7 linked regions of the Homo sapiens genome follow. The protein of the gene in region 6 purifies or fractionates together with the protein of the main gene of each other region. This does not show direct contact. Each region holds a gene or a part of one and is shown on either strand. Other genes may lie near its edges.

Region 1 (3,500 bases), on a different chromosome or scaffold from region 6:
GGCGTCACCCACAATGTCCCCATCTATGAAGGCTATGCCCTGCCCCATGCCATCATGCGCCTGGACTTGGCTGGCCGTGACCTCACGGACTACCTCATGAAGATCCTCACAGAGAGAGGCTATTCCTTTGTGACCACAGGTATCCAGCCCCTTTTCTGATTCTGACTGGAGCTCAGAACCAATCTGGTTTAGGACAAGAAGTTCTCAGGACCAATGAGAATTCTGTGACTCTGTGTCTTTAAACTCTCCTGAGATAGACTGAGAGGCCTTAAGCTGGGGCTAGGCCTCTGGATAAGACCAGATAGTCATGGAAGCAGTCCCTCCTTCCCCAGAGACCAGCTGCCTCTGTCCACGTCCACACCAGGACTAGGGCTAGTTTCCACAGGCTGAATGGTAGTGAAGATCTGCTGATGCATTTCATTACCTAGGGGCACCTTTGGTTTGAGGACAAATTGAATAAGTGAGGCCCGAATTTCTAAGGGGAAGGTGTCATGTGGCCCACCTGGGCAATCGGCATTTTTTAGGTGGGAGCCTCTCTAGGTTCTGTAAGATCAAACATCTGAGTCTAGACCAGAAATATGTCCTGCAAAGCCCCCAGGAAGGCCTAAGGCTTTGTCAGAAATCTCATGCAAAGTCCTGCATGGGAATCAAGACTTGAGACTCCCTCTTTAGAAAGAGGAGTGGAAGAATTAAGATTGAATGGAGTGACGCTTGACCCTCTTCGCGGCAAGTCTATCATCATCCTATGACTGAACCTAAAGTAGACGTGAGGCCAGGCGTGGTGGCTCACGCCTGTAATCCCAGTACTTTGGGAGGCCAAGCAGGCAGATCACTTGAGGTCAGGAGTTCTAGACCAGCCTGGCCAACATGGTGAAATCCTGTCTCTACTGAAAACACAAAAATTAGCCGAGCTTAGTGGCGCACGCCTGTAATTCCAGCTACTTGGGAGGCTGAGGCAGGAGAATTGCTTGAACTCAGGAGGTAGAGGTTGCAGTGAGCCAAGATAGCACCACTGCACTTCAGTCTGGGTGACAGAGTGAGACTCTGTCTCAAAAAAAAAAAAAAAAAAAGAATAAAGTAGATGTGAGAAGGAGGTTTTCATGGAGATCAAAATGGGACAACCAAACTATCAGAGCTCAGTATTCACCTTCTGTCATTTCTGCTCCTTCCAGCTGAGAGAGAAATTGTGCGAGACATCAAGGAGAAGCTGTGCTATGTGGCCCTGGATTTTGAGAATGAGATGGCCACAGCAGCTTCCTCTTCCTCCCTGGAGAAGAGCTATGAGCTGCCAGATGGGCAGGTTATCACCATTGGCAATGAGCGCTTCCGCTGCCCTGAGACCCTCTTCCAGCCTTCCTTTATTGGTGAGGTGCTGCCCACAGTCCCTGCCAATCTCAGGAGGGGAGGGTGGAGGAGTGGGTGAGGTATGGAGAGAGAAACACCAGGAGTCATGGCCACTTTGTTAATTACATACACGTACCTCACATTTTCCTAGGAAGGGCCAAAAATGTATTTTAAAAAAAATTAGGGAAAAATCTCATTTTAAATAAAAGGGAAAGGAAATCAAGATACAGGAAAAGCAGAACAGGAAATATAACATGAAACTTAAGAATGAGGTTAAAACACAGAAAGTTTGTAGGCAGCAATGTAGCAAGGTCAGGTTGTAGTTTAGCAAGATTCTTCTATCTACAGTGTGGAATCATATTGCATGGATAAAAGACCGGAGGCTTGGCCAGGCGCGGTGGCTCACGCCTGTAATCCCAGCACTTTGGGAGGCTGAGGCAGGCAGATCACTTGAGCCTGTGAGTTTGAGACCAGACTGGGCAACATAGCGAAACCCCATCTCTATGAAAAATACAAAATTTAGCAGGGCATGGTGGTGCATGCCCATGGTCCCAGATACTCAGGAGGCTGAGGTGGGAGAATCGCTTGAGCCGCAGAGATCAAGGCTGCAGTGAGCCGTGATTGTGTCACTGCACTCCAGCCTGGGCAACAGGGTGAGATTCTGTCTCAAAAAAAAAAAAAAAAAAGAGTAGAGGTAAGTAGACCAGGCAGATGGCAAGAGCCAGTTTGGCGTGCAGGACCTTTTGCTCTAGAAGACTGTGATGCCAGGCTACAGTAGCTGGATGTCAACCTGCAGGCAATGGGTGACTGTCAGATGACATGACGAGTATATCCATACAATGGAATCTTATTTGGCAATAAAAGGGAATGAAGTATTGATCCATGCTGTGACCTTGAAAACATTATACTAAGTGAAAGGAGCCACACACAGAAGACCATATGGTGTATGATTCCATTGACAAGAAACATCCAGAATAGGCAAACCTCTAAAGACAGAAAGTGGATTCACTGTTACCTAGGGCTGGGGCAGGGATGGAGGGGAAAATGGGGAGTGACCGCTATTAGGTATGGGGGTCTCTTTTGAAGGTATTTAAAATGTTCTAAAATTAGATTTTGGTGATGTTTGCTTCTGTGGATATACTGAAAATGACTGAATTATATCTCAAAAAGTTATGAAAAAAGAAAGATGATATAACAAAAGTGTTCCTTTAGAAATATGCTTCAGGCAACAGTATAAAAGATCAGGCCGGGTGTAATACCTCGCGCCTGTAATCCCAGCACTTTGGGAGGCCGAGATGAGTGGATCACAAGGTCAGGAGATGGAGACCATCCTGGTCAACATGGTGAAACCCCATCTCTACTAAAAATACAAAATTTAGCTGGGCGTGGTGGCATGTGCTTGTAATCCCAGCTACTCGGGAGGCTGAGACATGAGAATCACTTGAACCAGGGATCAGAGGTTGCAGTGAGCTGAGATCGCGCCACTGCACTCCAGCCTGGTGACAGAGCAGACTCCATCTCAGAAAAAAAAAAAAAAAAGATCAATCAGAACTGGGGACAATAAAGGAAAGGCCATGACAAGGAAGGGGGTATGATCTTATAATCCTTCTGGGAGATATTAAGGTTCTGAACTAGGGTAGTTGCAACAATCGAAGAAGGGTCATTTGAGGAGCTGGAGGTGTGCATATTTAGGAAGTGATGCCTGTTGACCAGACACTGTGATCTCCACTAGGCATGGAGTCCGCTGGAATTCATGAGACAACCTACAATTCCATCATGAAGTGTGACATTGACATCCGTAAGGACTTATATGCCAACAATGTCCTCTCTGGGGGCACCACCATGTACCCTGGCATTGCTGACAGGATGCAGAAGGAGATCACAGCCCTGGCCCCCAGCACCATGAAGATCAAGGTGGGTCTTGCCTCAGTTGTCTCCATCCTGTTCTTTGTATAAAGTCTTGCCTACCTGGGAGTTCCTCGGAGGCAGACTGCCAGACCTGATAACTTGCTGGTCTCCTGGGTTCAATATCATCCTGGACTGGAGCCAATTTTATCCTACGGAATTATGTTCCTTGGGCATTGATGGGCTGAAGACCCACTTAGCATGGATCTCAAACATAATCCCAGGAATGTCACATGAGAAGAGGCTGAAAG
Region 2 (2,990 bases), on a different chromosome or scaffold from region 6:
TCTGACCTCACCCTGCTGGCCTGTTCCCCTCACCTGGCCACACAACCAAGCTGGTACCTCCACGCTTTCATCATGTCCTCTCAAGTACACTGTCTCCAGCTACACCCCTGCACTCCTCTCCGGGAATTCTGTTTCTCCTCTACCCAACCAGACCCTGTTCCATCCTCTGTTTTTTCCTTGCTACCAATTCAGGCCCACGCCTCATGCACATTCTCTGAGAATTATGTACATAAGTACCTGACTCTCCTGGATGTAAGCTGGGTGGGCTTAGCAGGCAGAGGCCCTGTGTCTTACTTTATCTCTGCATCACTGATGTCTGGCACATCAAGGACTGCAAGTTTGCTGAGAGAATGAATCGCCTTTTATACATGGAAATGTAAGCTCTAAACTGCCTCAGAGCATATGCTGGTGGGTGACAATCTGAGGAGGTCATGAATATAGGAGAATATTGAAGAGGTCACACAGGGGAAACAACTTTTCATTATGAAAAACTGGGAGACTGACATTTAAATGGTTTATCTGCATGATTAAATTAATCACATTTCCAACAGTGCATCAAGCATCTGAGAATAACATTATTTTGAGTAAAAACAGAAACTCTTCGGGAGAGACCCCCTCCCCACAGGTCAGGCTGCTCAAATGTCCACCATGTCTAGCAGCGCAGAGAGATGGAGCTCAGAGGCAACTTCCTCTTCCCTTGAACTCCGGATCAGCCTTTCCAGGTGCTTTAGTCGTTCGCCTAGACACGTTCCTGTCGCCTCTGACAGCTGCAGTTGCTCCCTCATCATGTCACTCTATTTGAATAAAAAAGAAACTGAACAGTTTTGGGATGTCAATAAACCACGACCTATCTCTGGGAAGGTACTAGATCTGGATCATGTTAGAAACCTCATCTGAGTAGTCATTTATTTTTACAGAGGGAAAAAAATTATCCTTTGTATATCCTTCCAGCCTCATTTAGCTCGTACATTCAGCTGGTATCTGTATATAGACTGTTTGCCTTTGTATTCTATCATGAACAATTTCCAGTGTCAGTCATTTTTCACCCAGGCTGGAACGCAGTGGTATGATCGGAGCTTACTGCAGCCTCAAACTCCTGGGCTCAAGTGATCCTACCAGCTCAGCCTCCTGAGTAGCTGGGACAACAGGCATGTAGCACCATGCCTGGCTAATTATGTACTGTAGAGATGAGATCTCTTTATGTTGCCCAGGCTGGACTCAAGCTCCTGGACTTAAGCGATCCTCCCTCATCAGCCTCCCAAAGTGCTGGGATTACAGGCATGAGCCACCACGCCCAGCCAGTCATTTTTAGAAAATATCATCGTCAAGGGCTGTGAATTATTCTATCACATGAATGTGTTATAATTGTTTAATCAGACTCCCATCTTCGGATATTTATTCTGTTTCGACTTTCATACAATAATGCTACAGTAAACATTTTTATACATTAATTTTTGGGGAATATCTGGTAGGTCAGAATTCTTTAGGTTAGAATTGGTAATTCAAAGGGTATGAATATTTTTAAAGTATTTGCCAAACTGATGAATGGAAACAGTACATCATTTTAATTTGCTTTTCTCCTCTATTGAAGGACTTCCTAAAGCCAGTCCAGGAGCACAGTTTTTACCTGTTCAGTGGCACATATCTGTGATTGAAACTCTGTTTTTGCATCTTTAACCACTGAAGGAAGAATGGTAAGGTAAAAAGACCTTAGGCTTTGGAGCCAGTTGGATCTGGCTTTGAAAAGCAACCTGACCACTCACTACTTGAACACTCTTGGGTGAGGCTCTTGACTTCTGGGAGCTTACCTTCCTCATTCATTAGTTTTCCTCAGGAAAAATTAATCCCAGAAGAGAGGTCTGGGTAATGCCAAAGCTCAGACAATATGTGCTCCAACAGAAGCTGCTGTCATCACCTTAATGCCCTTAATTACACATCAGCACACAGTTACAGGTCTTATTCAGTTCTTAAGAATATTTCAATTCTATTCTTCATTTATTTCGTAGGCAGAAACTCAAAATCAGTTGGGTCTCTTTAACAATGATATGGATAAAGTTTAAGAAAAGGTCTAATTTGAGCTAATAATTTGTCGGTCATCAAAACATCATAGGATAAATCGTGATATTACTTTTTTCCCCAGCCATTCTCTCAATCTTTAATTCTTATGTAAATGCCAAATGTATACGTTCTTCTCACCTGTGGGCTAGTAGTTACAGATGTTTTCATCACAGGTTCAATAGTGTGAGAAAGAGACACTAGAGTCTGAGGAAGATAGAGGGGAAGGGAAGTTAAATCCGTAAATGCTCCTGAGTCTTCAGACAACCATTGCTGAAGCTGATCTTCAAACCTGAAACAATATGTAATAAATTCAAAAATATTTGAGCATTAGGAAGTTAACTATTGTTCATTAATCTTCTATATATACTTAAAAACTTTTTAAGCCTTTGCTTTTTTAAAATTTTATATAATTTTTTTTTTTTTTTTTTTGAGACAGAGTCTCACTCTGTTGCCCAGGCTGGAGTGCAGTGGCATAATCTCGGGTCAGTGCAACCTCTGCCTCCCAGGTTCAAGTGATTCTCCTGCGTCAGCCTCCTGAGTAGCTGGGATTATAGGCAAGTGCCACTGTGCCCAGCTAATTTTTTGTACTTTTAGTAGAGATGGGGTTTCACCATATTGCCCAAGCTGGTCTTGAACTCCTGACCTCAGGTGATCCACCCACCTCGGCCTCCCAAAGTGCTGGGATTACAGGAGTGAGCCACTGTGCTTGGCCAATTTTATTATTATTTTTTTTTGACAAGGTCTCGCTCTGTTGGCCAGGCCGGAGTGCAGTGTTACAATCTTGGCTCACTGCAACCTTGACCTCCCAAGCTCAAATGATCTCACCTCAGCCTCCCAAATACCTGGGACTAGAGGCGCATGCCACCCAGCTAATTTTTGTATTTTTTTGTAGAAACGGGATTTTGCTGTATTGTCAGGCTAGTCTACAACTC
Region 3 (3,500 bases), on a different chromosome or scaffold from region 6:
TGCTCAGGTCTAAAATTTGGAGTCCATTCTTGACTCCATTTTCACCCTTCTCCCCAGATCCAACATCCAACTCATGTCAATCTTAAACATCTCAGTCAATTCTATTCATTCTCATTCAGATCTCTCTTCTCATTCAGACCATCATCTTTTCCTTAATCTAACTCCTTTTTCACTAGTTTCCTTACCCCTGAGCTTGTCCCTCTTCAATCCATTTTTCACTCTGTCTTCTGAGTGATCTTTCTAAAACATAAATATGATCATTTACTCCCTAAAAGTCCCCTCAGCAGCTCCCCATTGCCTCCATGGTGACAACAAATTCCTTAATATAGCTCTAGAGCCGTTCTGACATTGTCCTTGGACTCTTTAGTTTCATCTTCCTTAACAATCTCTCAAATTCCCTATTTAACAGCCCTTCTTTTACATTCTCTATGGCAGAAATAACCATGCATACCCCCAGCTTTCACCTGTGGAGAAATTATTTTTATACTTCAGGTCTCCACATACACCTTCCTTCTTTCAAGGCTTCTCAGAGTTTCTAAGGTAACTGCTCCTCCTTTGTATCTTACACATTCCTTATCACAGCAACAATCACCCTGGGTTGTAATTTTCTGTTTACTTGTCTGTTTCCTACATGAGATCAGCTCTAAGAGGACAAGAATCATAATGTCTTGTCCATTTAATATTTTGTTTACATGTCTCTTGTACTTAGCACAGTTCCTGCCTTGAACAAAGAGGAGGTTCAAGAAGAAAACTAAATATATCAGTTAAATAAAGGTCAAAATACTTGAACCATATCCTGATATTTTTTTCCTTTTGAGCCTCAATATACTATCACATTATGTCCCTGATATTTTGTGCAGCTCTTTAACAAGCTTCCTGTCTATCAAATTCACTAACATTCTTGTAAGGCAAATGGGAAAAAGGCCTAAAAGAAAAAGCAAAGAAAGGAGTTATGTTAAAAACACAAAAATAAATAAGAACCTTCCCTTTTTTATTATAAAAAACATTTATGTATTTTTCCCTACAATCAAGTAATTGTTTACACAATGCGACTGCATAACCCTTAAGGATCCTACAATGCACCAACAAAACAGAAGATGCTTAGCAAAAAAAACACAAAAAACAAAAAGGGTCTCACTCTGTCACCCAGGCTGGAGTACAGTAGCACAATCTTGGCTCACTGCAACCTCGACCTCCTGGGCAAAAGCAATCCTGCCACCTTAGCCTCCCAAGTATCTGCGACCACAGGCATGTACCACCATGCCTGGCTAATTCTTGTATTTTTTGTAGAGATGGGGTTTTGCCATATTGCCCAGTCTGGTCTTGAACTCCTGAGCTCAAGCGATCCCCTGACCTCGGCCTCCCAAAGTGTTGGGATTACAGGCATGAGCCACTGCACCAGGCCCACTTTATGTTTCAAAAACAAAATAGCAGGAAATTCTCTATGGAGCCTTAGGATGTGTGACTGATAAACAAGAGAAGAAAATAATCAGAAATTGAAAAAGATGATACAAATAAGGAGGTTTTAAAAGCAGAGAACTAATACTCTCTACTTGATAGGTACTGGGTGAAGGAAGTGTCTAGATTATAAGAATAATTAAATTACTAGTGTAAATAAAATATAACAAAAAATGTAACTTTCTTACCAGAATATATCTTCTAATACGTCTAAAGGTAAAGGATGAGGATTAAACACAATAAAAAGTCTTTCTTTCACAGGAGTTTCAGCAGGAGCTTTTTTTTTGCATGATGGAAGTACAACATCTGTCTGGATTTGAGGCAACTGTGATCCAGAGCTTCCTCCAAATTGCTGTTAACAGGTAGAAAACAAGAAAAAGAAAAAAATGCCCTTTAGGGATTTTTGGCCAAGAGCTAAAGACAGATATGTATCATGGCATCTATGTGGTCTTCCACAATAGCTCTGAAAATTTTCATACACAGATAATCAACAAAGCATGATTTCTCTTCACATTTATTTTATATGCTATTGATATATTATAAAGGTTAAATTCTTACCTACTTACCATAAATTGTTGCTGACTTGGGTTATTCCACACCATTGATGCAAGCTGTGCAGCTACCATCTGTGTTGCCATTTTTCTAAGGAGACTGGAAAAAATAACTGATAATTTACAGAAAACTAAAAATATTCAGTCTTTTAACAGTAGCTTGTTTTGTGTGACTTTCTCACCTGAGAGGTCAATTGTTTCTATTTTTATTCTTCAAGTCCTATCAATCATGTACACTCAAAGCTCGGCTTTAGACACTCCTGGAATGGTACTTACTCTGTTGCATTACTTCCATCATCAATGAAGGAAACACCTATTCGGTTCCCAGGAGGGTACTGAAATCCATGTAATTTGTATTTTGCATAAATAGCTGATGCTACATTAAAATACTGAACCACTCCATGACCTAAAATAGAGAACATACAGAAATGAAAAAGGAAAGCAGACTGAGTGCCTAAGGCCTATGTTACAATCTATCACAAAAATGAAACCATGTAGAACTCTAATATCACACAACTAGTAAATACAGAATCGAATGTATCAGAAAACACAGTTCTGTTATCATGTGTGCAACAGGTGTATTCCTAGAAAAGGAAGAAATAATTTAGGGAAAAATATGAACATGATATTTTAGGGAAAATGGAATATTAACATACGTCCTGTCTAATAAGTTTAGTTTTAGGATACTAGCTTTTCTTATATGATACCAATATACTTAAAAGTCTAAATTTTTATTCTTTGAAATCTACTTTGAAATTTTAAGATTTTCCCAACCATACTGGGTAGGAAATGAAATGAGAAGTGATAGTTGAAAAGAATATATACTCATCCCGGCTATCTGCAGCAGTAGGGAGAGGAAAAGTGATTTGAATGAAAAACAAAAAGATAGGGAACAGAGGATCTCAGATCACAAGTGATATATTTTACTTTCCTTTGGAGAGATTTCTGCCAAAGGGACGAATTTCAATTTAGGAGGGTGATGTTGAAGGGAGGGACAATGTTATAATGCATTCCTTAGAGAGCCCAGGAGTTTGTGACACAACTAAAAGGTTTTCACTTTTATAATACAAACCACTGGGGAAACACTTATAATTTATGTTCATCTGGAAACCCAAGCATCCAACATTTTAATGAAATTAAAATAAAACACAGAAATCAAATGACCATATAAAGTTAATTCAAATGAGATTCGAACTATATGATGACACCTCTATTAATAAAAAGATGTTCCAATGACACATATATTTCAGACACATCCAACCAGAGAAACAAAACAGGAGGTACAGGAACAAATACATTTTGACATACCAGATAAAAGGGAGGGAACAAAACAAAATGAACACAACTTCATATGCATATAACAAATGTGCCAGAGAACACAAAAATGTGTGCCTAGAAGTCTTAGAACAGAGAATGACGCATATGATCGGGTTAAGACTGGGGATGGCTCAAAGACAGTTCTACAAAAAGACTAGTGCTGGGTTGGGTACT
Region 4 (2,400 bases), on a different chromosome or scaffold from region 6:
CGAGGGACCTCCCTGTCCTTTTCCTTTGTGAACTGTGTCACGTTCTCCAGAGCAGTGCTCAGACCTGCCCTGCCTGCTCTGTGCAGATGCCCTTGGCCAAGGTTTTCACACTGGAACAAGTTGGTCCCTCCTCCCCACCCCAGCCTGTCCTTGCCCCTCCTCCAGGTCTCCTTCTGCATAGGAGCAGCTCACCCTGCCTCCTCCAGAGTCCTGCCCTAGAAGCGCAATCCCTCTCCTTCCATCCCCTGCCTGGCTGCCTGGCTCCTTCCCTCAGCCTCCAAGACATGCTCAGTTTTCTTCCCTCCTAAAACACCACCCACTGTCTCATTTCCATTCATTTCTTTCTTTCTTTCTTTCTTTTTTTTTGAGAGGGAGCCTCACTCTGTCACCCAGGCTGAAGTGCAGTGGCATGATCTCCACTCACTGCAACCTCCGCCTCCCAGGTTCAAGCAATTCTCCTGCCTCAGCCTCCTGAGTAGCTGCGATTACAGGCGCCTGCCACGATGCCCGGCTAACTTTTGTATTTTTAGTAGAGACGGGGTTTCGCCATGTTGGCCAGGCTGGTCTCGAGCTCCTGACCTCAGGCAATCTGCCTGCCTCAGCTTCCCAAAGTGCTGGGATTACAGGTGTGAGCCACCGCGCCCACCCATTCATTTCTCAGTCCTTTGAATCTACTTGCCCCTCCATCCCGCCATGCCACCTACCCTAACAACCTTCCCCCTTAAACCTGCGGGTTTGGCCGGGCGCAGTACACTGAGTCAGTACTGGTACTGACCCAGGTACCCCTCCAGCCTCAGCTCCAGTCAGATGGGACAGCCTGCTGGTCCCTGGCTGCTTCTGCCCCCTCTTCTGGAGCCCCAGCCCTGGAGGCTCCATGTGGCTCAGCAGAACTTCTTCTCCTCCTGCTCTGTGGTGGCCTCTTGAGGGCAGCACTCACCTTGGAAAGCATGGAGTGTTTCAACCCTCACTGCTCCCTGAAGGACCAAGGTGTCCCATTTTACAGTCGGGGGAGGAGGCACTGTGATAAAGGGGCTCTTCAGACCCACGTCTGAGAGAGCCAGGCTGCCCTGCCCCCGCGGCCTTCCACCCTTCACCGTCCAGCCAGGGCCACTGCCATCACCGCCTGCTGGTCCTCACAGGCGTCGGGGCCCCAGGCAGTGAGAAGGCGGCTGCTGACTCCTCTTTCCTCCCCAGCTGCCAGGGACCTGGTGAGCAAAGAGGGCTTCCGGCGGGCCCGGCACGTGGTGGGGGAGATTCGGCGCACGGCCCAGGCAGCGGCCGCCCTGAGACGTGGCGACTACAGAGCCTTTGGCCGCCTCATGGTGGAGAGCCACCGCTCACTCAGGTGAGGCCCTCTGGGCGCCCCGCTCCTGCCGGGCACAGGCCGGCCCAGGCCCACCCCTTCAATATCCTCTCTGCAGAGACGACTATGAGGTGAGCTGCCCAGAGCTGGACCAGCTGGTGGAGGCTGCGCTTGCTGTGCCTGGGGTTTATGGCAGCCGCATGACGGGCGGTGGCTTCGGTGGCTGCACGGTGACACTGCTGGAGGCCTCCGCTGCTCCCCACGCCATGCGGCACATCCAGGTGGGCGGGCACCAGGGCCTGGGCGGGCAGGAGCGGCAGCTTCCCGGGGCCCTGCCACTCACCCCCAGCCCGCCTCTTACAGGAGCACTACGGCGGGACTGCCACCTTCTACCTCTCTCAAGCAGCCGATGGAGCCAAGGTGCTGTGCTTGTGAGGCACCCCCAGGACAGCACACGGTGAGGGTGCGGGGCCTGCAGGCCAGTCCCACGGCTCTGTGCCCGGTGCCATCTTCCATATCCGGGTGCTCAATAAACTTGTGCCTCCAATGTGGTACCTGCCTCCTCTAGAGGTGGGTGTATGCTTGGGTGTCAGAGAATGGGGGATGTCAGAACCGCTCCCCTACCCTAGGGGAGCACCTCTCAGGCCCCAGAAGAATGGGCAAGGCAGGGCCTAGCAGTAGCAAAACCATTTATTAAGTGCAGAACAAAGGCTGGGTCCTTGTGCTGCTCCCAGCTCTTTGGTTACAAATAGGTTTGGGCCCACAGAGGACGGACCTTGCCCCCTTCATGCCTCCCAGGAGACACCTAGCCCCTGCTCTGTGCATGCGGGTGGGCTGGGCCCCCAGGGGTGCAAGGATGGAGTAGCTGAGGAGGCTCCGGGAGAGGAGTCGGGAGGACGCCTAGTGGGACGTGGCGGGGGTGGGGCAGGGTGCGGTCAAGTTTGGAAGAACTGTTGGTCCATGTGGGTGCTAAGGGTTCCGCTGGTGGTCAGTGTCCGGCTCACAAACTCCTGGGTCACATGCCGGGTGAGGGAGCCGCCTGCCTCCAGGTGCTGGGCCCCCAGGGTCAGCCCATCTGTGGAGGAGGAGGCATTAGA
Region 5 (3,500 bases), on a different chromosome or scaffold from region 6:
AGCTTCCTGCCGGATGTGCTCCTTTTTTTCAGCACTCTCCATGGCCCACCTACGCAGGAAGCTGCCCTGGGTGAACAAGGCTGTGTCCACTGCCATAGAGTTTTCGATCTGCTGTCCCCTTCTTGCACCAAAGCATCTGTGTCTCTTGCATGTGCATCTCCTCAGTCCCCTAAGACACTGAGCAGCTTCTGGCCCCCCACCCTGGTGTAGCTCTGTCCATTCCTGCCTGGAGCCCTCTTATCACCCAACAGACTTGAGGCTTTCTTGAAGTGGGGTCTCTGTCTCTTTTGTCTCAACCCCCACTACTTGGTATGGTGTCTGATATCTGCTCAGTGTCAGCTAGGGACAGAGCTGCCCACTAGAACCTTCACCTGGGCCCAGGGCCCCAATCCCATCCTTCCCCAGGAGATAGGCTGGTGGCTTGGTCACTGGACCAGACTGCTCAGGTCAGCCGCCATACCCAGGTTTTCGGCAATACGGTTACGGCTCATCTCCAAAGCTTCCTGCCTCAGCTGCAGCGCGTGCTGTGCGATCTCGTCGCTGGCCACATTGGAGGTCATGATGAAGATGGCGTCCTTGCAATCAATGGTCTTCCCTTTTCCATCTGTCAGCCGGCCCTGGGAAGGGAAGGAAGGGAGTGTACAGTCAGGGAGCTATGTGCCTGGGCAGGCCTTAGCACTCTCAGTTCTCACCTCCTTCAGGAGGCCTCCCCAGAGCCCTGTGTCTCCCTCCAGCCCCAGCAGCCAGCTGCTTCCTCCTCTGGGTTCTCCGAGCACTAGACTTGCACCTTGGCTGCTGTGCTCACCGCCCTGCGCTGCAACTGCTCTCCCTACTGAGTGCCTCCAGGTGAGGCTGCAGTTGCTCTCTGGCATCTCTTGGGGCACCCAACTATCCCTGGCATGCAGAAGTCAGTCACAGTTAGCCATTCATTTGTGCAACCAACACATTTTTTGGAGGCCCGCTGTGGGCCAGGATCTGTGGTGGGGTACTGGGGTCCCACTGAGCCTACAACATGCTCCCAGTATAGAGAAGCAGTGAGATACAGGAAACAAGCACTGACCATCCAATATGTTACGTATGATAATAAAGGGAAGCCCAGCATGCTGCAGGAATTCAGAGGAGGGTACTTTACATGGCTACTGTCAGGACTAGATGTGGTTATCTGGTGAAAATTCTTAGTAAACCATGCTGTTCAAATGTTCAGAGCTATTATTACTGTAGTAGGTGATATATAATGAAACAGGACAACCTCTTTTATCTTTGGAGCTGCCGCCTGGCCTAACAGGGATAAAAAATGAGATTGCTTCTTTAACCACCTTGGGAAGTTTCCTTGGAATCTTCAGCTCTTTCTAGAAGGGACAAAGGAGGCATCTATACTGGAGAAAGATGCACCAAAGAAGGAGAAAAGGAGCAAACAGTATAGGGCAGAGACAGAAGAATGATAAAAGTACAGTGTTCTGGGACCAATCAGTTGAAGGGTACAGAGCCCCGCTCACTCAGCGAACCTCAAGGGCATGACCGTACAACAGCACTTTATGTCATTTATAACAAAAGCAATGATCAGGGACTCCTTGAGAGCAAGCAATAGAGTGACAATGCCGAACACGGACAGGGACTTCTACTTTCATCACAGATGCTCTGCTTAGTGCTTTTTGTGTACAACCCCACTCCTTCTACTAGGAAAGTGGCTCCTTGACAACAGAGGCTGGGTCTTGTTCATCACTGTGTCCCAGAACAGCGTCCGGTACAGAGTAGGTGTTTGACACCTGCTTGCTGGAGGCTGGAATCTTCACATCCACCCTTGGAGGTAGGTGCAGTTAGGACCCCTACAAAGAAACTGAGGCTCAGAGAGGATCATAACTTGTTCGAGGTTTCACAGCTAGGATACAGTAGAGGCGAGACTTGAACTATCTGACCTCAGAGCCCATGCCCTTCCTCTGCACCAGGCTACAGAGGTCAGACCAATGGTGCTGGATGAATGAGGCCTCGTGCTATTTTCTTTCCTTCGACAGAATTTTCTCAGAATTCTGCCAAATTCAGTTTGATCCTCACTGGAGAGATGCAACTGGGACAGGTGCTAGGGAGGAGATCTACCTGAGATTTCTTTTGGGAAGCAGAGAAAGCACAGCTCCCGCCAAGCCAGAAACCGTGGCTCTGGGGATATACATCACTGACCTCAGCCTGTTGGCTCCTGCCTGAGCCAGGGATGCTGGGCCCTGCCCGAGCTTCAGGGTTAGCCCTTGCTTCTAAAGCCAGTGTAATGGTAAACCCAGTCCTACTCCTTAGGAGCAAAGGAGAAAGGACTGTGCATCAACCGAGCTAGCTTACTGCATGCTGGGTGTAGTTTCCAGCCTTGCTTTCCACTGGACCTTGGCAGAGGCCTTTGAGAAACTGTTAATTCCCAAAGGGTCTATACACAAGGGGCCTGGTAATCCACATCCTGGAGCTGGTCACTCTGCTGTCCCTGCCTTGGGGCAGGAAAAGGGAAGCAAGGGTGCAAGCAGATGTCCTTGAGCTTTTACCAGCAGCTTTTCACTCTTACCCCACTGCTTATGGGTTCTAATCTAACAGATCCACTGAGGGCAGTTCTAGTTTTGGGGACCAGGTGTGTGTGTGTGTGTGTGTGTGTGTGTGTGTGTGTGTGTGTGTGTGTGTGTGTGTGTGTGTGTGTGACATGTCCAAGCATGTGCATATGACTGTGTGTGTGTTCCATACTCACTTTGCAGAGCTCATCCCTAAGGACTGGGTTCACACACTGCTATACTGGCCAGAGCAATAACCTAGCAGCAATTTCATTCTCAGAGATCAAAGCTCTGCTCATAACTGGGCCTGAGGATGGGTCCCAGGTGGGTGAGGGGAGCAGGTGCAGTGCATGACTGACCCAAAGGGTGACTTTCAGTGCTCATGTCTCCTCCTCAGTTTCCTTAGCAATAAAGATGTGTCTCAAACAGGAAGCTGTCCGTGCCTCACCTCCCTCTAACAACCAGAGCGTGCACATCTTGGGTGGGGCTTGAATGCTCACCCCAGGGTTATGGGGCTGCTTTCCCACTGTCTCACGTATGACTCCTTGGTGGGAGGAGTGGGGGCTGGGCTCTCTGGGGACTAGTCTCTTTCTGGGACTTCTGCCCTGGGGTCACCTGTGAGTGGCCAGCAGTAGACCTGCTTGGTGCTTTGATGAGAGCAATAGGGTTCTTACTTTTCTGGGCCCAGGCTTGGGAGAACTAGACTGGGTAGGGGTGAGGCTGCTTCCCTCACACCTCCAGCCTGGATTAGGTGCCCCTACAACTCCTGGCACTTGCTGCTTGTCCCTAGCGCAGCACCGACCACAGTGGACTGAACTACTTTTTAGCTGCCTGTCTCCGCACTCATTGGTCACGCCAAGGCCAGGGCTGCATCTGTTTTGTCAGTGTCCCCTCTACCCCACACAGCGCCTCATGAATAAATGAATGAGCCACATTCTTTTGGTTGGCTCTTTTTTGTTTTTGAGACAGGGTCTGGCT
Region 6 (3,351 bases):
CAGTCCGTCGATAGCAACAAAGAGGAGCTCTGACTGTCCCTTCCTAAGCTGTGGGCACAGTGGCCAGGCCTCCCCACCTAGGCCCATGGTCAGTCCCTCTTTCCCCGCAACCTCACACTCCCGCCAATGCGTGATTGCCAAAGACCACTCAGATCATGGCAGTGTCTGCAGCAAAGCCACCAGATGGCACGTGAGGGCTGAAAGTCGGGGATGCGGTGGTCTCCTCCCTCCTGTCAGGGGGCAGAAGGGCATCCTCTGCCAGGTGGGAGCTGCCTTCCCCAGCCCAGTTTGTCTGCAATGGAGCTGTCGCTGAGCCCCAGGCCAGCCCAGTTCTGCCCCGTCTCAAGTGCTCCTCTTCCTTCCAAGCCCCTCCTCAGATGGGCCTGCATCCCGCCTGTGGAGTGCTTCACAGGGGAAACCCATCCGCATCTTAAGAGTTTGTGGCAAGCGCTTTAAAACAAAAGCTCTGATATCCTCAACAACCACAATGGGCAGGTGGGATTGTTGCCCCAGATGACTGCTGAAGACACCAGCTGTGGGATGTCAAGTAATTCCAGGGACCCCCAGCTGGGAGTCCCCGTCTGTGTCACTTGCCACACACTGCCTCAACCTCCCCGCCCCATTTTCAGCAGGGTTTGGGCTTAGCTACAGAGCCCAAGAGGGTCAGCCCTGCTTATCATCATAGGCCCAGCAGGCTGATCTCGAGCAGCGATAGGACAGCTCCCTGCAAAGCCATCTTAGCAACTTTCTCACTGAGAAGCAGGATTCAGAGCTGCTCTCCCCAGTTGCACCCCCTGACTCATCTTCCAGCTGGCTCTTCTCTCCCATCCTACTCCCTTCTGTCTCCCTGCCCTCTGCCATCCTGAACCATGCCTTGCTTCTAACCTGCCTGGTCAAGTTTTGTGAAACTTATCCTGCTGTCTCGGGCTGGCACCCATATGTGCTCACCATGTGTAAGGTGACATTTCCAAATGCCTTTGTGTGATAATGATGATGAATTTGGTTCCTAGTCTCTTCTTCATTGCCCTTCCTCACCAGCAATCTGCACTTTCCCATCAGGCGTCTTAGTCTCATTTGTAAGTGCATAAGATAATCACAGTGATTTTTCAAAGCCCAGGATCATAAGTGATTGCTTTTTCACTGGTTCTTACTAACTCTTCATGTATCCACTCAGAATTCCAAGGACAATCCCAGCACTCTGGGAGGCCCAGGCAGGTGGATCACCTGAGGTCAGGAGTTTGAGACCAGCCTGACCAACATGGAGAAACCCTATCTCTACTAAAAATACAAAACTAGCCAGGCGTGGTAGCACATGTCTATAATCCCAGCTACTGGAGAGGCTGAGGCAGGAGAATCACTTAAACCCGGGAGGCAGAGGTTGCAGTGAGCCGAGATTGCGCCATTGCACTCCAGCCTAGGTAACAAGAGGGAAACTCCATCTCAAAAAATAAGTTAATTAAATTAAATTAAAATAAAACATGCGCTGGGTACAGTTGCTTACACCTGTAATCCCAGCACTTTGGGAGGCCAAAGTGGGCCGATCACCTGAGCTCAGGAATTCGAGACCAGCCTGGCCAACATAGCAAAACCTTGTCTCTACTAACGGTAAAAAAAATTAGCTGGGCATGGTGGAGCATGCCTGTCATCCCAGCTACTTGGGAAGCTGAGGCAGGAGAATTGCTTGAACCTGGGAGGTGGAGGTTGCAGTGAGCAGAGACCGAGCCACTGTACTCCAGCCTAGGTGACAAAGCAAGACCCACAGTAAAGCCCCCACACCCCATCTCAAAAAAATAAAAAATAAAAAAGAACAAAGTATGCTACAACAAAAGTGAAAAGAGAAAAAGAATTCCAAGAACCCGGGCTTTCTGGATCCAAAGCTCTTTCATGGGGACGTCCTCTTCCCCTCTTGGCTTGGTCCAGACTTTTTCTTTTTCTTTTTTTTTTTTTTTGCAATGGATTTCGCTCTTGTCACCCAGGCTGGAGTGCAATGGCACGATGTCGGCTCACTGCAACTTCTGCCTCCCGGGTCTAAACAATTCTCTTCCCTCAACCTCCCAAGTAGCTGGGATTACAAGCGCCTGCCACCACGCCCAGCTAATTTTTGTATTTTTAGTAGAGACAGGGTTTCACCACATTGGCCAGGCTGGTCTCGAACTCCTGACCTCAGGTGATCCACCTGTCTTGGCCTCCTAAAGTGTTGGGATTACAGGCATGAGCCACCACGCTCGGCCCAGTCCAGACTTTTTAACTACCTGGCCCCACTGCAGACACAGTTCCCTCTAGTCCTTCCCAGAGTTACAAGAAGAGAACTCCAGTAGCCTTATTCTGTCAGGGACGAATTGTTTACCCCATGATAATGTAGGATATCATAAATTCTTCTTCAAAGGTTTTAGCCTGTAATTTGTTAAGTACATTGAGTTCTGAGATCCTCTCCAAAGAACCAATGTATCAGTATGTTCAGCTCACCTGTTCTTTGTTCTTCATTTTAACTTTTAATTTCCTCATTCTTTATGTCTCCTTGCCCCTAGTTTCAGTAAACAATCCCCTCCTAGCCTCTGTCACCTGCTCTGACCTGAGTCACCTTTAGTCACCTGGTCCGTAACCATCTTTCCTGTCTAAACTTCTCACCCCACCACTCTGGCTTATACCCCTGCTCTCTTTAAAATAGCCAGTCAGAATTAGCTTAGATTGTGCGGTCCAACCCTAGCCCATAGGGGAACAACACAGCAGTAGGGGGTACCTGCATCAGGGATAAGAACCCATTCCCCTCCCTTGTTCCGGTGTGCTCTCGCCATTGCACCATCCATGAGACGCACTCTTGTATAGAAGTAAAATTGCCTTGCTGAGAAAATGTATGTTTGAGTGCTATTTCTTTTGTGGCACTGAAAATTTATTTCTAACAAATTTGGGGTCTCATTTGGGATTCCCATCCTCCTCTGAGGAGGGTCTAGACCTCTCCCATGAGGAGGCACGTCCCACTGCCTTGTTGCGGTGGCCACAGGGGTAAGGAATCGAGACCAACCAGTGTGACGAATAAACCTATACTCTCAGCAAGGCAGAAAGAAACGGGCTGGCGACCTGGGGGAAAGGATCCTCATGTACCACAGCGACCAAGTAAGTGTGCAGAGACCAAGCTAAGAAACATCGCAGGGGTGACAAAGTATTTCCTTGGTGGTCAGGATATTCTGGGGGTTGAAAGTGTGCATGAATGCAAGGAGCCTCCAGCAGGTGGGGCTAAAGGATAGGCGAGACATCTCCAACAGGGGAGATTGAGCTTAACCAGGACCCAAGATGGGAAATGCCCCAAGTAAGGTAAGAGATAAAAAGGAGAAAGCTAGCAACAGTAATATT
Region 7 (3,500 bases), on a different chromosome or scaffold from region 6:
ACTAAGTTTATGATCCTATTCTAAATCCTTTGTTGTCATTTCAGCAGTGTTCACAGCATCTTCACCAGGAGCAGATTCCATCTCAAGAAACCACTTTCTTTCCTCATCCATAAGAAGCAACTCCTCATCTGTTCAAATTTGATCCTGAGATTGCAGCAATTCAGTCACATCCTCAGGCTCCACTTCTAATTCTACTTCTCTTGCTGTTTCCACAACATCTGCAGTGACTTCTCCATTGAAGTCTTGAACCCCTCAGAGTCATCCATGAGGGTTGGAATCTACTTCTTTTAGACTCCTATTAATATTGATTTTTTGACCTCTTCCCATGAATCATGAATGTTCTTAATGGCATCAGAATAGTGAGTCCTTTCCTTGGAGTTCTCAGTTTACTTTTCCCAGGTCCATCAGAGGAGTCACTATGTATGGCAGCTCTAAGCTTATAAATGAATTTCTTAAATAATAAGACTTGAAAGTAAAAATTACTCCTTGATCCATGGGCTACAGAATGGATGCTGTGTTAGGAGGCATGAAAATAACATTCATCTTGTACATCTCCATCAGAGCTTTTGGGTGACCAGGTGCATTGTCAAGGAGCAGTAATATTTTGAATGGATTCTTTTTTGCTGAGCAGTAGGTCTCAACAGTGGGCTTAAAGTATTCAGTAAAACATGTTGTAAACAGATGTTCTGTCATCTAGACTCTGTTGTTCCATTTCTAGAGCACTGGCAGAGTAGATTGAATATCATTCTTAAAGGCCCTAGAGTTTTCAGAAGGCTAAATGAACATTGGCTTCCATTAAAAGTCACCAACTGCATTACCCCCTAACAAGAGAGTCAGCCTGTCCTTTGAAGGTTTGAAGCCAGGCATTGATTTCTCCCCTCTAGCTATGAAAGTCTTAGATGGCATCTTTTCCCAGTAGAAGACTGTTCTGTTTAGTATTGCTACCTTCATCAATGATCTTACATAGATCTTCTGGATAACTTGCTGCAGCCTCTCCATCAGCACTTGCTGCTTCACCTTGCACTTTTATGTTATGGAGATGGTGTCTTTACTTAAGTCTTATGAACCAACCTTGGCTCACTTCAGTCTTTTCTTCTGCAGCTTCCTCACCTCTCTCAGCCTTGACTGAATTGAAAAGAGAGAGAGCCTTGGGCTTGATTAGGCTTTTGCTTAAGGGAATACGGTGGCTGGTTTGATCTTCTATCCAGACCACTAAAACTTTTTCCATATCAGCAGTGAGTCCGTTTCACTTTCTTACCATTCATGTGTTCACAGGAGTAGCACATGTAACTTCTTTCAACAACTTTTCCTAACTTGGCTAACTGTTAGGTGCAACAGGCCTAGCTCTCGGCCTATCTTAGCTTTCGACATGCCTTCCTCACTAAGCTTAATCATTTGTAGTTTTTAATTTAAAGTGAGAGACATGGGACTTTTCATTTGAACACTTAGAGGCCATTGCAGGGTTATTAATTGGCCTAATTTTGTTGTGTCTCAGGGGATAGAAAGGCCCAAGGAGAGGGAGAGAGACAGGGGTCGGGGAATGGCTCATTGCTGGAGCCATCAGAACACAACAGCATTTATCGGTTAAGTTCGCCGTCTTACATGGACAATGTTCTCAGTGTCCCAAAACAATTACAAGAGTAACATGAAATGTCACTGATCACAGATCACTGTAACAGATATAACAATGAAAAAGCTTCAAGTATCATGAGAATTATCAAAACATGACTGAGAGACACAAAGTACATGCTGTTGGAAAGACAGCACCAGTAGACTTGCCTGATGCAGGCTTGCCACAGACCTTCAACTTGTAAAAAAAAAAATGTGTTATCTGCAAAGTGGAATAAAGAGAAATGTGATAGAAGGAGGTACCTGTGCTTCACTTGCATGCTGTCGAGGAGCAGCCTTCCCTGGAGAAGGGGACATTGAGATACCTCCAAAGAAAGGATATGATTTGGATGGGTGGAGATGTCCCAGAGAGGGAGGTGGTGGGCTGGAGGTGGTTCAGAGGGAAGAGCATGCCTGAATTCAGAAGAGGTGAGAAAAGTGAGACATCAGGTTCCCCTGAGGACTGGGTGTGTGGAGGGAAGTGGTGGGGGTAAAGCCGCAAAGCCAGCAGGGGACATATATTGGTAGGCTTGGGAATCCGGATGGGCTCAGCATGGACCTGGTAGGCACTGGGCCACCACGAGAGGAGTTTTAGTAGAATTGCTTTGTTGGAGTTGGTCTTGAGGAAGCAGCGCATTCAGTAAATCTGGGGCCTGAATAAAGAGGAGGCTTTGCTTCCAGGCACTTCTGTGACATAACTTTTTCTTTTCCCTCTTTTCTGCTTCCTTAGCTGTCTGAAAACGTGGTGAACCGCATGAAGGAGCCCAGCTCTCCACCCCCTGCTCCCACATCTTCTACCTTTGGCCTTCAAGATGGCAACTTGAGAGCCCCTCACAAAGGTATGGGGATTGTGACAGTTCTGTGGAGTGTGGAGAGACAGTGAAAGGAGTGATGGGTGCTCACCCGAGCCCACCTGATGGCGCACAGGGCTCAGGTTGGCTTCTGGATGACGTTAAGCAGCTCTGTCTGGTAAGGGCTTTCCGGAAGAGCATGGCTTTCTGGGAGTGATGGGGCTGTCATCAGAGCTGCCGGGATTCGGGTCGGACCACCTTCCCTCTGTGCCACTTTCTCCATGTGGGAATTGAGGCAGAAGGACCTGAGTTGACAGCTCAGGAAAGAAGTTGCCTTTAAGGCTCCTCAGAGGCGGCATAGCCATGACTCAGCTTCAGCCACTCTAGCCTAACTCCCAAGTCAAAGAATGATGTGGATTCACGTGAACAGGGCCAAGTATAGGAGAATTCCGTCAGTGATTTAGGCGCCTACCGCAGCAGCCCTCACCTGAGCCTCAGGCCGAGAGCTCCTGTCCTGGCCCTTGGAATGGTTCCCTCTGGGCTTCTAGGAGGGGTCCTAGGAGTTCCTCTTCCTGGCCCACTGTGAAGCTGGTGCTCAAGCCGGGCTCAAAGCTGATTTGTTCCCTACTGTATTGTGCGTGTTGCAAATGAAGAAATTTGTGCTTTCCCCAAATAACGACTTGTAGCAAACACAAGGAAATAAAATTTTAAGGAAAAAAGTTCTAAGGCATACAAATGTTAAAATATTACAAAATAAAAAAGTCCTTGGAGCAACTGCTCAAAACATACTTGTTTTTGAGAACTTGGGTCTGTCTATCAGATTCCGTAACTCAATTAAAAAAAAAAAAAGATTGGCTGGAGGCAGCATGCCACCACGGAAGGACCGACTGTTCAGGTGGATAACCACCCACTAGATTGTTCTTCTTGGGCCTGGTCTCGCGTTACAGTTGCCTTTTCTACTCATCTTCCCTGTTGGGTTGAAAGAGTTTAGAATATGAGAGCTGTATCCTGCCCACTTAGTGTTTACTGAAGGCCACCCAGAACCAAGTCCTGTGCCCTGTGCCAAGACACAGTGATAGGTGGGCAGGGACCCTCTCTCAT

What was found.
Region 1: the proteins of FOXRED2 (region 6) and ACTG2 purify together in Homo sapiens (affinity purification with mass spectrometry; one large-scale study listed by BioGRID and IntAct). This does not show direct contact.
Region 2: the proteins of FOXRED2 (region 6) and MCM3AP purify together in Homo sapiens (affinity purification with mass spectrometry; one large-scale study listed by BioGRID and IntAct). This does not show direct contact.
Region 3: the proteins of FOXRED2 (region 6) and RBM45 purify together in Homo sapiens (affinity purification with mass spectrometry; 2 studies listed by BioGRID and IntAct, with this or other methods). This does not show direct contact.
Region 4: the proteins of FOXRED2 (region 6) and GALK1 purify together in Homo sapiens (affinity purification with mass spectrometry; one large-scale study listed by BioGRID and IntAct). This does not show direct contact.
Region 5: the proteins of FOXRED2 (region 6) and CLPB purify together in Homo sapiens (affinity purification with mass spectrometry; one large-scale study listed by BioGRID and IntAct). This does not show direct contact.
Region 7: the proteins of FOXRED2 (region 6) and CHCHD6 purify together in Homo sapiens (affinity purification with mass spectrometry; one large-scale study listed by BioGRID and IntAct). This does not show direct contact.

Annotation. Positions count from the first base shown.
Region 1 is NC_000002.12:73,913,508-73,917,007, forward strand, and holds part of ACTG2 (actin, gamma-enteric smooth muscle isoform 1 precursor), read left to right. Parts: coding exon 1-139; intron 140-1,172; coding exon 1,173-1,364; intron 1,365-3,076; coding exon 3,077-3,258; intron 3,259-3,500. UniProt on the Homo sapiens protein: Actins are highly conserved proteins that are involved in various types of cell motility and are ubiquitously expressed in all eukaryotic cells.
Region 2 is NC_000021.9:46,234,633-46,237,622, forward strand, and holds the end of MCM3AP (germinal-center associated nuclear protein), read right to left. Parts: intron 2,348-2,990; coding exon 2,197-2,347; intron 1,695-2,196; exon of another isoform or gene 1,592-1,694; intron 795-1,591; coding exon 636-794; 3' UTR 501-635; downstream 1-500.
Region 3 is NC_000002.12:178,122,437-178,125,936, reverse strand, and holds part of RBM45 (RNA-binding protein 45), read right to left. Parts: intron 2,416-3,500; coding exon 2,286-2,415; intron 2,110-2,285; coding exon 2,025-2,109; intron 1,811-2,024; coding exon 1,647-1,810; intron 1-1,646. UniProt on the Homo sapiens protein: RNA-binding protein with binding specificity for poly(C). May play an important role in neural development.
Region 4 is NC_000017.11:75,757,394-75,759,793, reverse strand, and holds the end of GALK1 (galactokinase), read left to right. Parts: intron 1-1,194; coding exon 1,195-1,345; intron 1,346-1,421; coding exon 1,422-1,584; intron 1,585-1,666; coding exon 1,667-1,738; 3' UTR 1,739-1,900; downstream 1,901-2,400. Other genes in the region: ITGB4 (integrin beta-4), read right to left, coding at 2,239-2,378. UniProt on the Homo sapiens protein: Catalyzes the transfer of a phosphate from ATP to alpha-D-galactose and participates in the first committed step in the catabolism of galactose.
Region 5 is NC_000011.10:72,295,032-72,298,531, forward strand, and holds part of CLPB (mitochondrial disaggregase), read right to left. Parts: intron 618-3,500; coding exon 461-617; intron 1-460. UniProt on the Homo sapiens protein: Functions as a regulatory ATPase and participates in secretion/protein trafficking process. Has ATP-dependent protein disaggregase activity and is required to maintain the solubility of key mitochondrial proteins.
Region 6 is NC_000022.11:36,486,690-36,490,040, reverse strand, and holds the end of FOXRED2 (FAD-dependent oxidoreductase domain-containing protein 2 isoform 1 precursor), read left to right. Parts: coding exon 1-33; 3' UTR 34-2,851; downstream 2,852-3,351.
Region 7 is NC_000003.12:126,724,740-126,728,239, forward strand, and holds part of CHCHD6 (MICOS complex subunit MIC25), read left to right. Parts: intron 1-2,338; coding exon 2,339-2,447; intron 2,448-3,500. UniProt on the Homo sapiens protein: Component of the MICOS complex, a large protein complex of the mitochondrial inner membrane that plays crucial roles in the maintenance of crista junctions, inner membrane architecture, and formation of contact sites to the outer membrane.